Linked DNA regions of Homo sapiens: region 2 is linked to region 1. Evidence: fine-mapped expression QTL. Tissue or cell type: whole blood. Region 1 holds a variant in brackets; the other region holds the start of a gene. All regions are shown on one strand. Distances are between the middles of the regions.

Evidence for each region. PIP is the estimated chance that this variant, and not a neighbour inherited with it, causes the effect.
Region 2: PNLDC1 starts here. The variant in region 1 is fine-mapped to the expression of PNLDC1 in whole blood (TOPMed, PIP above 0.99).

Annotation. Positions count from the first base shown.
Region 1 is chr6:159,681,664-159,689,768 of GRCh38, reverse strand. It overlaps SOD2 (superoxide dismutase 2), which reads left to right. Exons shown (of 5, transcript NM_000636.4): 3 at 1,527-1,643; 4 at 4,736-4,915; 5 at 7,131-8,105. The coding sequence ends at 7,276. Among named protein-coding and RNA genes, the nearest start is that of SOD2, 7.5 kb to the left of the region's middle. RefSeq lists a silencer at 2,202-2,452. The variant G/A (reference allele first, on the strand shown) is at 4,619.
Region 2 is chr6:159,796,959-159,805,043 of GRCh38, reverse strand. PNLDC1 (PARN like ribonuclease domain containing exonuclease 1) reads right to left here and starts at 4,768. Exons shown (of 19, transcript NM_001271862.2): 1 at 4,661-4,768; 2 at 4,215-4,272; 3 at 3,858-3,931; 4 at 1,734-1,773; 5 at 956-1,079; 6 at 407-495. The coding sequence starts at 4,736. It overlaps MRPL18 (mitochondrial ribosomal protein L18), which reads right to left. Exons shown (of 4, transcript NM_014161.5): 3 at 7,526-7,757; 4 at 6,615-6,992. The coding sequence ends at 6,921.

The DNA.
Region 1 (8,105 bases):
AGGCCGGTCTTGAAATCCTGACCTGAAGAGAGCTGCCCGCCTCGGCTTCCCAAAGTGCTGAGATTACAGGCGTGAGCCACCGCACCCGGCCCAGACATATGTTCTTAACGTACACTTTCAGAACAGCAGTTGAGAACTTTTTCCAAAATGTAAGCTCCTTGAGAGCAAAGCTCTCAGTGGGTCTCTGTGTCCTTTACTTTGCTTCTCTTGGTATCTTGTGGATAATATGCACAAAATATTTATTAAACAAGAGGATTTCCATTTTTTTCTAATATTAATAGTTCATTTAGTCTGTAGCTTCTTGAAGGCATAGAAAAGACTATTTTATTTTGCCTACTTATTTGGCAAGGTACCCATGCAGTATGCCAGGAGTTACAGGGCCTATTGAGAAGGAGTAAAGGGTCTGGGAGGGGTGGCAGGGAGTTGCTAATTCATGTATGGTGGCTAGAGAAGGCTTCACTGATGGGGTTGATGTTTCAGTGGAGACTTGAAGGAGGAACAGGAACGCAGCATGAGACTGTCTTGGGGAAGAGTGTTCAGCAGAGGCAGCAGTGCTCAGCTAGCCTTGAGGGGAACATCCAAGTTGGTCATGTGAGTGCAAAAAGGCCAGTGAGGCTGCAGCTGCGTGAGCACGTGCTCAATGACGGGGTCAAGTGCAGCGCCTCTTGGTAGTAAGAGTAGCTGAGTGTAAACACCTAGGGTTCGCTCCAGTGAGAAGGGGAGCCTTTGGAGGGGGCAAGGCCCACCCCCACCCCCCAAAACTGAGGGGATAGTGGCACCAGTGCAGTGAGAAATACTGGTCCTCTGTCCCAATGAGGTGGCAGTAGAGTTAGGGAGAAGGGATTAGGTTCTGCTTGTGTTTTATTTTTTTCTTTTATTTTTCTCTGTGTGCTTTTATATAGATTGGATGTATTTTAAAGGTAGAGCTGGCTTTGCTAATGGATATGCTGGTGGATTGGATGTGGGGTGAAGGGAGAGGAGTCAAAAATGACATCAGGTTCCCAAGGATGTCCTGAGGGACAGAGCTGGCATTTACTGAGACGTGGAGGACAATAGGAGGAGTAAGTTTGGGGTAGAACATCAGGAGTTCAATTTTGAGTATGTTGAGTTTCTTGTTAATGTGACTTGGAGATATTTCCCAATGAATCGTCGTCTGTCTTGAAAGTGAGAGTTGAAGGTTTTCTGTACAGTCTGTATGTTGAGCCATACATTTTAGCATTCTATTATTTTGATTGTCCTCTTTGGTGTTTCATTTCCTAAAATCTCTTCTATCTAAGAGATCCCTGAGCCTAGCAGCCAGGAGTGAATTTTCTAGCTTTTCCACCTCTGCTAGGTCCTTCATCAGTTGTTCAGCATGTCTGGGACAAATAATTTTGGGGCGGGGGGGTGCTGAATTTTAGGACAAACGGATGTTATAGATAAGCTGGTCCCATTATCTAATAGCTTACAAAGAAAAAAATATAATGTATACAGTGGTTGAAAAAGTAGGAGTTACAAAAAAATGTGTTTGCATTTTAACTTTTCAGGAGATGTTACAGCCCAGATAGCTCTTCAGCCTGCACTGAAGTTCAATGGTGGTGGTCATATCAATCATAGCATTTTCTGGACAAACCTCAGCCCTAACGGTGGTGGAGAACCCAAAGGTTGGTATATATTGGTGCACCCTTATCTACATTTTGTGCACAGTAGGAATCGATTGTTGATTTACTGAAGTTACCTTATACTTGTTTTTTGTTTTTTTTGTTGTTGTTTTTTTGAGACAAGAGTTTTGCTCTTGTTGCCCAGGCTGGAGTACAGTGGCGCAGTCTTGGCTCACTGCAACCTCCGCTTCCTGGGTTCAAGTGATTCTCCTGCCTCAGCCTCCCAAGTAGCTGGGATTACAGGCGCCCGCCACCACGCCTGGCTAATTTTTGCATTTTTAGTAGAGATGAGGTTTCATTCACCATGTTGGCCAGGCTGGTCTTGAACTCCTGACCTCATGATCTGCCCACCTTGGCCTCCCAAAGTGCTGGGATTACAGGCATGAGCCACCGTGCCTGGCCTAAGTTACCTTATTCTTACCAGAGGTATCATAGTGGCATATTTTTCATAACAACGAGTATGATAAAAGTTGTAACTTTCAAAAGGACACAAGTAGGAATGGAGAATGCTTTCATGGGGTTATGTCATAAGATTTTATGTTCACGCCAACATAGAATATCACATCAACTCCACCTTCTGGTTTCTGGATGGTACTTCATATTAGGGAAAGACTGAGAGACTTCATTTTATGAACTTTTTTTTTTTGAGACGGAGTCTTACAGTCGCCCAGGCTGGAGCGCAGTGGTGCAATGTCGGCTCATTGCAACCTCCGCCTTTCAGGTTCATGCAATTCTTGTGTCTCAGCCACCCAAGTAGCTGGGATTACAGGCATGTGGCATCACTCCCGGCTAATTTTTATATTTTTGGTAGAGACAGGGTTTCACCATGTTGGCGGGGCTGGTCTCGAACTCCTGGCCTCAAGTGATCCACCCACCTTGGCCTCCCAAAGTGCTGTGGTATGGATGTGAGCCACCGCGCCAGTCTAGAAAAGATGAACTTTCTGTCTACTAGTTTCTAGGGCCTGGATTAGATAGTTAACCGTCTGTACCTTTTTTCATCTATGTGATACAGGGATAACAATGGTGTTGTTTTGAGAATTAAATTATAGTGTCATTTGCTATTTTTCACTCTTTCCTAACTGATAAAAAGTCAGTTGTTCCAGGAAATTAGGTTTTCTGGGTATTTTTAAAAAGTGTTCAGGGAATGAGGAGAGTACAGGGCTAGATGGTCTTGTTCGCTATCACTGTTTCCTTGACTTCCTGTGTAGCTTGTGGAGGCCCAGATGACTTTAATTATCTTCTTCACCCAGGGAGGGCATGAGGCGTAAATGTAGTTCTTGTCTCTTGTTTCTGGGCTCCGGATATGCACCCTAAGTTTCTGTGGTTTTATTGTTCATTTTTAATCAGTGTTATGGAAGGCAGCCTATCTTATGCACTTGAAATAAGCAATTTCATTTTAAGGTAATGATGAATGAGGAGAGTAAGCTTGGGAAACTGGGCAACTTTTTCTTTATTTTTGTTTTTATTTATTATTATTTTGGAGATGGAGTTTAGCTCTTTCGCCCAGGCTACAGTGAAGTGGCTTGATCTTGGCTCACTGCAGCCTCTGCCCATCCCGGGTTCAAGTGATTCTCTGCCTCAGCCTCCCGAGTAGCTGGGATTATAGGTGCCTGCCACCATGCCCGGCTAATTTTTTTGTATTTTTAGTAGAGAGGAGTTTCTCCATGTTGGTCAGGCTGGTTTTGAACTCCTGACCTCAGGTGATCCACCTGTCTCGGCCTCCCAAAGTACTAAGATTACAGGTGTGAGCCACCGTGCCTGGCCAACTTATTTTTTTTCTGAGTTCAGTCTTCTAGACTATCGGTTAATACTTTTGAAGTTTTGTCAGTTACCAGAATATCAGATATATTCATATGCAACCAGTGGTTTTGGTATGCTGCCATTTTTGTTTAATCTGTACCACATTCCATCATTTGTGCTTATAAAGATGATTACTTTTAAACCCGTAGAATAAGAGAAGTGAGATTTTGACCCAGTTGATTTAGTTGATGTGACTAATCTAGAATTATATTCTGTATTACTACAGAATAAAAGGATTACAGCTCTTAAAGTATACCCTTAGTTCAGTCGTAGAGAAAACTGCCCATCAAGACAGGAAGAGCTGGGCTGCCTTGGAGAAGAACAATGACTTTATTCCCAAATGGAGGCGTAGAAGAAGGAGGGTAGAAGTCAAAGGAAAATTTTCTATTCAGGGAAAAGAAAAAGCTAACAGAAAGTAGTATTTCTTTCCTAACAAAGATAGTACAGTGAGTGGGGAAATCCCTCTAACACGATTCATTAAAAAATGTGAACTACGCAGCTGGAGGCCATTATCCTAAGCGAATTAACCCAGGAACAGAAAACCAAATACCACATGTCTCACTTGCAAGTGGAAGCTAAACATGGAGTACTTATGGATATAAAAATGGCAGCAACAGACACTGAGGACAGAGCAGGGAGGGAGAAAGAAGGGGACGGGGGGTGAAAACTGTTGTATACTAAGCTCGCTACCTGGGTGATGGCATCAATTGCACCCCAGACCTCAGCATCATATGATACCCGTGTAACAAACCTGTGCGTGTACCCTCTGAATTTAAAATAAAATTTGAACCGGGCACGGTGGCTCACGCCTGTATTCCCAGCACTTTGGGAGGCCAAGGCGGGTGGATCACCTGAGGTTGGGAGTTTGAGACCAGCCTGACCAACATGGAGAAACCCTGTCTCTACTAAAAACACAAAATTAGCCGGGCGTGATGGCACGTGCCTGTAATCGCAGCTGCTCGGGAGGCTAAGGCAGGAGAATTGCTTGAACCTGGGAGGCAGAGGTTGCAGTGACCCGAGATCATGGCATTGCACTCCAGCCTGGGCAACAAGAGTGAAACTCCGTCTCAAAAGGTAAAAAATGAAAAAAAAAAAAAAAAAAAAAAAAAGTTGAAGTTATAAAAAACAAAAACGTGAATTAAAATTGTGAAACTTAGATCCAGGTGTCGCATTCTGAT[G/A]TTGTCTAATTTCTTGGGCCCTATGACAAAAATATTTTAATACATGTAATATAACATTTTACTGTAATTATTGAAATCTGTTCATTTGTGGGTGGTTTTGGATTTTTTTTTTAATAGGGGAGTTGCTGGAAGCCATCAAACGTGACTTTGGTTCCTTTGACAAGTTTAAGGAGAAGCTGACGGCTGCATCTGTTGGTGTCCAAGGCTCAGGTTGGGGTTGGCTTGGTTTCAATAAGGAACGGGGACACTTACAAATTGCTGCTTGTCCAAATCAGGATCCACTGCAAGGAACAACAGGTTAGATTTAAAAATTGTGATTTCATTTGGGAGAGATGCTCTACTGTAAAGCATTCAACTAGAAATAAGGAAAACTAACAGTGTTTTAAGAACATGTAATAATTTGCAAATCTTAACAGATAACACCCAGAGTCTTGTGTAAGTAAAAATGTTTTAGAAGTCCTGATATTTCATAAAATTAAGTACACGTAATTTTATAGGTACATTAACAAACATGTTTTATTTTTATTTATTTTTTTTGAGACAGATCTCACTGTTGCCCAGGCTGGAGTGCAGTGGTGCGATCTCGGTTCACTGCAACCTCCGCCTCCTGGGTTCAAGTGATTCTCCTGCCTCAGCCTCCCAAATAGCTGGGATTACAGGCACATACCACCATGCCCAGCTAATTTTTGTGTTTTTAGTACAGACAGGGTTTCACCATGTTGGCCAGGCTGGTCTTGAACTCCTGACCTCAGGTATCTGCCTGCCTCGGCCTCCTGAAGTGCTGGGATTACAGGCATGAGCCACCATGCCCAGCCAAATGTTTTACTTATTAACCCTGCTTCATTCTACAGAGAATTAATATCAGCTTAGATAATTATATGTACTAAAATAAAAAAAAAATTAGCTATAGAACAAGAGTGAGGAAAAGAAATACAAGCAGAGACTGATTTCAGAGCTTGTACTGTTACCTCCTCTGCTGAGCATTTGAGGTTAAACTGGGACTAGATCTCAGGTTTCCAGACCTTCTGCCTTTCTGGGGCTCTTTGGTAGAGTATATGAAAATATTCGGCTTGGAAGTGCCAGGCTGGGCTCACCAAATACTTTGCTGTTGAGCCTAATTGGATTTAAAAAATGTCACTGAAGAGTATGGGAAATAGAGCCATGAGTTGTCTGGCAGAGGGTTGGGACTTTGAACTTAAAGTGATACCTTCACATCAACAACAGTCATTCTCTGCCCCTTCTTCTACCCCTGACATTGGAATACTCTTGATCTGTGGCTCACTTCACAGGATAGACCCAGATTTTGGCAGAATCTGAACAGCTCTTTTGGGACAGTGACATGGCATAACAATTTGTAAAAGCCACAAAAAATTTGTAAGCACCGATCTGTAGAGTCAGGTTATTTGTAGAGCTGCATGACCAGAAAGGCTGATATTTGTAAGTGAGTCCCAGCTACACTCCTTCCTCTCCCTGTGGAAAGCACATTAGAAGGAAAATGAGGGAATGTCATGGCCTTTTGTTTATAAAAATCATTAATAAATTTTGCTACTTGAAATTATTAATAATAAATTACTAGTGACCTCCCTCACAACTGATCAAGACATACTGGTTAAGAATTGTTTTTGTAGAGAGAGCTATAATTTATTTTGAGTGTTTTTGTGTGTGCGTGATGGAGTCTCACTCTGTTGCCCAGGCTGGAGTGCAGTGGCGCAATCTTGGCTCACTACAACTTCCGCCTCCCAGGTTCAAGCAATTCTCCTGCGTCAGCTTCCTGAGTAGCTGGGATTACAGGCGCCTGCCACCTCGCCAGGCTAATTTTTTGTATTTTTAGTAGAGGCGGGGTTTCACCATGTTGGCCAGGCTGGTCTCGAACGCCTGACCTCAAGAGATCTGCCTGCCTCGGCCTCCCAAAGTGCTGGGATTACAGGCCTGAGCCACTGCGCCCAGACCAAAAGTTTTTTTAAATGGATGTTTTACAGATAGAACTAAATTCTTCATTTACCTCACTTAATTTCTGAAAACACTGTGTCCTCCAACTGCTCTGTATTCCCAAAGATTAAAATTAGCCTTGGGGAGCAGAGCTGGTTCCTCGTAAACCCCTGTGAGTGCCCAGACCCTTTGGAGGAGGTTCTCAGTGGGCTTTTGCCTGCTCCCACAGATGTAACCCACCCTTCCTGCTGCTCCTAAGACCACCATGAGGAAGGCTGGGAATTGGCTCTTGAATTAATTTGTTGGTATTTTTAAGAATAGCTATTAAAGTACTGTTGTTAATTTTCCCAAGTCTATTTTATTGTTAGTATTTGTCACATTTTCTTTGTAAACAGTGAATTAAAAATATTTTATAGGAATATTCATTCTTATCTAGATTTCCTACTTATATAAAAAAACAAGTGAATGAGATTGTTACAAAGGGTAATTTTGTGTGAGTAGAATAATAAAAGTTGAAATTGAGAAGATGCAATGTTTTAGACTGAAACTGATGGTTGGTTTGTTTTCCCCTTCTTTCTAACAGGCCTTATTCCACTGCTGGGGATTGATGTGTGGGAGCACGCTTACTACCTTCAGTATAAAAATGTCAGGCCTGATTATCTAAAAGCTATTTGGAATGTAATCAACTGGGAGAATGTAACTGAAAGATACATGGCTTGCAAAAAGTAAACCACGATCGTTATGCTGAGTATGTTAAGCTCTTTATGACTGTTTTTGTAGTGGTATAGAGTACTGCAGAATACAGTAAGCTGCTCTATTGTAGCATTTCTTGATGTTGCTTAGTCACTTATTTCATAAACAACTTAATGTTCTGAATAATTTCTTACTAAACATTTTGTTATTGGGCAAGTGATTGAAAATAGTAAATGCTTTGTGTGATTGAATCTGATTGGACATTTTCTTCAGAGAGCTAAATTACAATTGTCATTTATAAAACCATCAAAAATATTCCATCCATATACTTTGGGGACTTGTAGGGATGCCTTTCTAGTCCTATTCTATTGCAGTTATAGAAAATCTAGTCTTTTGCCCCAGTTACTTAAAAATAAAATATTAACACTTTCCCAAGGGAAACACTCGGCTTTCTATAGAAAATTGCACTTTTTGTCGAGTAATCCTCTGCAGTGATACTTCTGGTAGATGTCACCCAGTGGTTTTTGTTAGGTCAAATGTTCCTGTATAGTTTTTGCAAATAGAGCTGTATACTGTTTAAATGTAGCAGGTGAACTGAACTGGGGTTTGCTCACCTGCACAGTAAAGGCAAACTTCAACAGCAAAACTGCAAAAAGGTGGTTTTTGCAGTAGGAGAAAGGAGGATGTTTATTTGCAGGGCGCCAAGCAAGGAGAATTGGGCAGCTCATGCTTGAGACCCAATCTCCATGATGACCTACAAGCTAGAGTATTTAAAGGCAGTGGTAAATTTCAGGAAAGCAGAAGTTAAAGGCAAAATTGTAAATCAGTCGAGATCGGGTGCCTTCAGGGTGGTATGGCTGTATAC
Region 2 (8,085 bases), 120 kb before region 1:
TGCCCGAGAGATATCCTTGAAAAATCCCTCAGAAGATCACATGGGGGATCAACATAACATCTCACAGCAAGTCCAACAGAACGATTTCTTCCCCTCTAGCACTGGAATGGAATTCTTGTTTCTTTGAGTTCCAAATTAGGAGTCAGTTTCTTTTTCTTTTTAAACACTGAAACTCACACTCAACGCAGTGAGAGGTTCATTAGGGAGTGGAACATGATGGAGACAGGTGAAAGCCATTCTCAGTTGGGGCACAGGGAGAGCAGCGCCAGCTGCACAGGCAGCTGAAGCCATCCCCGCCAAGCATGGATGGAGGTCACCACACTCCTGGAAACGGCACGCCCGCCCACGGGAAATGCAGACAACAGCAACAAGGAAACAAAAAGGCACCTGGAGAAACAGGCCATACCTGCGAACTCTCCAGTTCCCAGTCAGGATATCGTGTCTAATTTTCTTCTCCTGTTCTTCATTCATATATGGGATTCCGTTTTTGAGAAACTTAAGACAGAAACAGAACAACAAACAGAACAAGGAGACAAGTCAGAGGGATCCTCTGTGCCTGATTTCACGAGGACAGGTAGAAAGGGGAAAGGAGACGGGCTGTATAAGCCAGTTCGTCTAGATCACTTGTAAGACATTCCCAGGCCGGGTGCGGTGGCTCATGCCTATAACCCCAGCACTTTGGGAGGCCGAGGCAGGTGGATTGCCTGAGGCTAGGAGTTCAAGACCAGCCTGACCAACATGGTGAAACCCCGTCTCTACTAAAAATACAAAAAGAATTAGCTGGGCATGGTGGCGGGTGCCTGTAATCCCAGCTACTTGGGAGGCTGAAGCAGGAAAATCACTTGAACCCGGGAGGCGAAGATTGCACCACTGCACTCCAGCCTGGGCAACAGAGCGAGACTCCATCTCAGAAACAAACAAAAGACATTCCCGTTCCCCTCCTCCAATGCCATACCTTGTTATAGTTGAAGCCATACTGATTCAAAAACTGAACACTGGAAGCCTGGAAGGAGAATTCTGAGTCCAAAATCCCAAACGTTGTAGGGAAGAGATAGAAGTTACAAGAATGGGCTATATACCTATAATAAAACAAACATACAGAGAAAAAGCCACAACCATTTAAAAAACTCTGGCTCCCAGGGCTGGCTTCAGGGTGGGCTCTTTCTTTTAGGCAAGAAGAATCTGAGTGTGCCCGAGTGTCTGCTGTGTTTCAGGAGCTATGATTGGCACTGGGGGTGCTAAATGAAAAAGGCAGAGAGCCTGCCTTCAGGGCCAGCGTATACCACAGAGACAGCCCCTCCACAAGCTGCCCAGGGATGCCAGGTTAGGGCGTGCAGGCTGGCACCCTCAACTGCTCATGGGGGGTGGGGAGGCATCCTGATAGTTGGGGCATCCTTTCTGCCTACTGTGTCAGGTAGTTTAAACATCACTTTCATTACACCACACTGTGTCAGGCGCTTTTATTAATATAGGTGCACACTGGAGACAATGGAAATGGGGAAAGGAGCACTTAAGGTACAGAGCAAGGCTGGCGGGAAAGGTACTGCTTCCAGAGAGACATCAAAGACAAGCTGGAATCCGCAGAGGGCAGAGTGAGTGGAGGAACAGACACAGGAGAGAATACGGAAGATCCAGGGCAAAAGTGATCGGGGCACCTGAGGCAGAATTTGAAGGTGGCAGCTGTGGAACATAGGTGGGAAGCACCTATGTTTGCAGAAGCTCTTGATACATACTTGTTTGCCTCTCCTTCAATAGCGGAAAACACAGACAATCCTGGAAGAATGACCGTAGAGGGAATGAATGCCAAGGAAAAGCAACCTGAATTTCACTACAAAGACAAAAACAACTCAAACAGTACTTTGCGCCCACAGATACTATGTGGGCTGTACAACAGGATAACATCTTTAATGACAAAAAAGAAAAGACAGACTGGAAGCATGAGAAATGTCAAATTGTAATTCACACTGAATTTGCTAAAATCTAATTGTGGCCTGTTCTTCAAATACAGAAGTAAATATTAAAATGACATTCTCATAGTTTTAAAACTATCCACAGAAAATACCAAAAACCATTAAGATTTATATATTTAACTCATTTAAAATGTCTATTCCTCCCCCCTCAAAGAAAACCATATGCAAAGTTAAAAAAAAAAAAGACTTCAGGCCAGGTGCGGTGGCTTATGCCTGTAATCCCAACACTTTGGGAGACCTAGGCAGGTGGATCACTTGAGGTCAGGAATTCGAGACCAGCCTGACCAACATGGTGAAACCCTGTCTCTACTAAAAATACAAAAATTAGCTAGGTGTGGTGGCGCGCACCTGTAATCCCAGCTACTCAGGAGGCTGAGGCAGGAGAATTGCTTGGGCCTGGGAGGCAAGGGTGTTGCAGGGAGCCAAGATCGTGCCCCTGCACTCCAGCCTGGGCAACAGAGCAAGACTCTGTCCCCCTTCCCCCCAAACAAATTTGGGTACAACAATGGAAACATAACTACAACTGTTTCCTATACTTCTCAAAGAGGTCTTATAATTAAAAACAAACAAACGAACAAAAAAAAAACCATAACAGAAAAGTAGCAAAGGATCAGGATAGAGAGGAAAACACACACACGTTCAGCATCATTCATAGTAAAAGCAGGGGCTGGGCGTGGCAGCACTCCCAGCTACTTCAGAAGCTGAGACTGGAGGATCTCCAGAGCCCAAAAGTTTGAGCCCAGCCTGGGCAACACAGCAAAAACCCAATGGTGCGGGAGAGGGCACAGACAAACCCAGAAAAGTAAAATCTGGCCCAGGGTCTGTTTCTGTAAATACAATAACATTTTACTGGAATGGAGCCATGCTCATTTGTTCATGTATTCTCTACAGCTAATTTCACATTACAAAAGCAGGATTGAGTAGCTGTAAAAGAAACAGCATTACGCAACCGTTAACAGCTCTGTCTTGACCAGCCTGGCCAACATGGTGAAACCCCATCGCTACTAAAAATACAAAAATTAGCCAGGCCTGGTGGCAATTGCCTGTAATCCCAGCTGCTCTGGAGGCTGAGGCAGGAGAATCACCCGAACCTGGGTGGTGGAGGTTGCGGTGAGCCCACATCGCGCTACTGCACTCCAGCCTGGGCAACAGAGCGAGACTCCATCTCAGAAAATAAACTAATAACTAAATCAACAAATAGATCTGTATGAACCGATACAGAAAGATCTCCAAATCCCATCAAGGAAAAAAAAAAAGTTTCTGAAACTGAGATGACCTTAAAAAAAATTATTTTTGTGTGTAAATTTTCTTAAGAAAAAAAAATCACAGGCCAGGTGTGGTTGCTCACGCTTATAATTCCATCACTTTGAGAGGCAGAGGCAGAAAGATTGCTCGAGCCCAGGAAGTCAAGAACAGCCTGGCCAACATGACGAAAACCCATCTGAACAAAAAATTTAAAAATTAGCTAGGTGTGGTGGTGAGCCTGTAGTCCCAGTTTACTCAGGAGGCTGACGTGCTAGTATCACTTGAGCCCAGGAAGTCTAGGCTGCAGTGAGCTAAGACTATGCTACTGCACTCCAGTCTTGGTGACAGAGCAAGACCCTGTCTCAAAAAATAAAATAAAAATCGCACACACACAGTTTTACTTGAAAGAGTAACAGTGAGTGTTCCTTAATACTGACTTATTTAAGCACGGAAACAATGCTGCTAAATTTGGTTTGCTCCGAAGTGTTGATTTCCATATGTATACAATGGCCCAACACAAAACAAGCATACAAAACGATACTCAATATCCTTGAAAAATCTCAGAGCTGTTTTTACAGTAGGAAATCCAAGGACAATAAAAATACCTTCTTGAAAAACTCTAACAGCTGATATTAAACTCACCAATCTGACAGACTGTAAATTGCTGAACACTCTGACGGGTCTTTAGATACCACTCCGATGGCAAATCAAAAAGACTGTGAACAAACAGGCATCTCATTCCACGAGCAATGACATCCCATCCCGGCACTATGGCCTCCGCGGCAGGACCACCACTCGCAACCGGGGAGGATTTTTTCCTTGTTACAACAACTAGGGAGCACTACCATCATTTAGTGGACAGAAAAAAGCAAGGTCCTCCAACACGTAGGAGCAAGCCACACAAAACGTCCTGCCCCCCAAATGCCAACAGGCTGCTGGCCAGAAACAGTGCTGGTCTGGCCAGGCTCTTATACAGAGGGGACACAGCTTTAGTTTTACCTGATCTGCTGGGGCCCAGACAGGTTAGAACGAAGGCCCGTGAACTCTATGTCCAGACCTGCCAGGAAGGCAAAAAATAGCAGTCCTCGGGTGCAGAACATCGCCAGCACTCCTCACACTGTAGATCTGCAGGCGGCCAAGGCACCCGCGCTCACCTCTGCGCTCAAGAAGCCAAGTGAGGTCAGGAAGGGAAAATGGAGGAACCAAGGCAAGGAGCAGCCAGGCACCTGGGCGCACGGGGCTCTGGCCAACAAGGGACGTGGGGCTCGGAGTGTACTTGCTGCTCAAAGTCCCACCGCCCCGGGGCTGGAGAAGGAAGCCCCCCTGTCCTTCCCGAGGCCCTCTCTGAGGCCCTGTGGCCTGGCAACCGTCCCGCCACCCCCTCCTCAAGCTCGCCCGGGGCAAGGGGCTCTGTCCGGCACAGCCGCGAATCCCAGGCTCTTCACCCACGAAGTCGGCCTCCTGGACGAGCTCCTGCAGCAGAGGGAGGCTCTCCTCGAACTCGTCGGCGCCCACGTCCATGGCCGTGCAGCTCCGCGGAGTCGCCCAGCGCTATCACGTGCTGCCCACGTGCTGCCCACGCGCTTCCGTCGCGCCGCCGGGTCTTAAAGGGCGCACACATGGAAACCAGGCAGCTGCCTCCGCCCCACGTGCCCAGCTTCCCCGTGTGCTGCTGGCGTCGCCCACACCTGCCTGCGGGTGTTTTAATTGTACGATTTGCTACAGAGGTTTGATTGCAATTGCAATCAAAGCCTGTTTACCTGGCTCCTCAGCAATTTCTTTGCAGCCCTTAACGTGAGAATGTCATTTACATGGACTTAGAATGTTAAGAGGCGTGGCAGGAGACGAAGACAGAGTCCAGAAAGGGTGAAATCAGAAAAGCGGAGCAGGAACAACACCGGACGCAACTGCAATAAGCAGATCCTTTGCTGCGGCTCACGGTCTTCTAAATCACCTCTTCCCAACTTCTCCATCACTGCCAGTATGTCTGTCCCCATTCCCTCTCCCACGCCCCTGGACATCTTTTTCCTCATTCTGCTGTCCACCTTACCACTGTCTTCACACCTGCAATCAAACTTTGCAAAGCCTCAAGAACTGCCCATTAAATTGAAGGAATCCTTGGTCCCCAGGGATTATCTCGTGCACTCACTCCTTGCGGAAATCCCTACCTACATCATCACATACATGTGAGCTTAATTTTTACTTTTGTTACTGTTTCCAGTGCAACTAGTCCATGGTCTTCCTTACAGTGTCCTCCCTTGAATTCTAGGCTTCTACTTGAACAGCGTTTTGGAACTATGGTCCTCAAAGTGAGGTGCTCAAATCAATCTTTAAGGTTAGCGGAGAAAACATTACCGTTATACTTTATTTTTTCCTTTTGAGACAGTCTCACTCTGTCACCCAGGCTGGAGTGCAGTGGTGCCATCTCGGCTCTCTGCAATCTCCACCTCCTGAGTTCAAGCGATTCTCCCGCCTCAGCCTCTGAACAGCTGGGATTACAGGCATGCACCACCACGCCCAACTCATTTTTGTTTTTAGTAGAGATAGGGTTAAACCGTATTGGCCAGGCTGGTCTCGAATTCCTGGCCTCAAGTGATCCACCTGCTTCAGCCTCCTAAAGTGGTGGGATTAGAGGTGTGAGGCACTGCATCCGATCTTCAATTATACTTTTAAATGCCTCTCCGGGACATTAATTAAGCAAAAGGGGACTATTAAGCCATTTGATTCTGAAGACCTCTCAGAACAAATCATACTTCATACAGATGTGTTCCATTTAAAATAACACATTGAATACTCAAATTGGCAGAAGTAACATATTTCACTTCTAAACAAACATTTAATTGGGGTATACATTAAAAAAACTGGAAAACAATGCTCTAGAAGCCACCTTAACTGCCTACAGGTTTTTTCTCACATTTATCAAATAGCCAAAAATTAACACCTTAATCAGCTCCTTTCAGAGAACTGCCATGATTCCCATCTACCCAAGCTCAAATTTTAGATTAACTTGCATGCATTTCAAGTTTCATCTCCTATCTAATAAAATGTTCACTTCATGGCAAATTGAGCGCCCACTAACCCCAACCATTTCCACCTCTGCTTTCAGCTCCTGATGCCACCTCCTTCCTCTTTCAAATTTGTTTCTCTTACTGTTGGGAACCAAGAGTCCAAGTGAGGTTGGCATTTGGTCCTTTCATTTTCACATACTGACTGTTCTATAGTATTAGATTGATACTGACATTTCCTATTTTAAAAAACAACCCACACTCCGAGCAGCAAACAACTGTCATTCACTGAGATCACTCGCCATGAACTAGACACAGTAATAAGTGCTTTACATCAACCTCATATGTGCTCCACTGCCACAGTGAGCTCAGACAATGTCATATAACCAGAAAATAAGAGTTCATAATATGCCTTTATTTTGTAATTTATAAACAACTTCTGACTTGCCCTTTGAAAGTTAATTATAATTGATGACTGCTTTTCTTAGATGCTTCTGAAGCCCAAGAGAGGGGCAGAACGTAGTTCTTGATTTAAAAAAACAGAAAGGGGAGGAGGATGACCTTAACTACAAATAATATTCCACTGCAACATTATTGCTGTAAAACTTCCAAGCTGGCTGTTCTTCCAGATGCTCTCTTTTGATGGCTGTAGTGGCTGACAGATTTATATTTACATGTTCAAAACAATTAATGCTTCCATTTATTCATAGATTCTCTGAGGTTCCCGTAGAACCACACCACCTTCTGTCATGGCACTTTGTAGTCGTTTCATCTGGTTTTGAAAATCAGAAAAAAAAGGAAAAGATTAAGTCAGCAGCACGAGTAGGCTGAAAATACTTTCACCTTCCAAAAGACAGAAATAAATTGATTTGTTCTTGCTAACTTCCCAGCCTACAACGGTTTTTCAGAAAGTGATCTTAATAATGATGTAAGTAAAAAGGAAATGTAGAGATGTCAAGGTTCAGCAGCATTTCAAAATATTATATGGACAAGATGTCAATATATGAACAGGAAATACAGTGGCTGACATCATGGACTACAGAATCAGTCACCCTGGGTTTGAAATCCACCATACACTGACTCTGGGCAAGTAAGCCTCAGTTTATTTCTGTATAGAATGAGAGTACTAGTCCCTACCCTATGGACTGATGTGAGGATTAAATGAAGTAACACTGTTGAGTACTCACCAAAGGGTCTGACACATGGAAAGTATTTGGTAAGTAAAAACTGTTATTATTATGTAAGTTATCTAATGCCAAGAATTAACACAATACCTTTTCAATAAGTACATGAAAACAAAAATACCGAGTCTGAGGCTGCCTCCCACGGGGTTGGTTGGTAGACCATGAAGTTGATTCCCGCCTCTAAGCATCTCTGTGCCAGCACTCGTCCTATACTCTCACAAGCCACCACATTTCTGGTACTATAAAGGTGCTTTTTAATAGCCCACTCACGAGTGGAGGCCGAAACCACAACCTTGCCATTCTGATGCTCCACAAGTGCTTCTACATGATGCTGAGTCCTTATAACTCGCAACCTAAATGGGGTGAGAAGATAATAAAATCACAGAAGAATCTGTATCCTAAAGTTACATTAATTGAGGTGAATAAATGACTAAATATTTTTCAACAATCCAGTGTTTGGTTCATTTACTTCAACATATTTAACTTGGATTTTGCTTGGGAAAAGTATTTTTCCTCCGCCTTTATGAGAATATCCTCAATAATAACAAACTAAATAGTTCAAGTATCATGAAGAAATTTGTTTCTGAAGAGCTGAGTTTTATTTACAGATCTACTTCAAAAAGAGATTTGAAGAGACAGAGCTAAGTTACTGAACATATGCATGACATGGATATACTTACT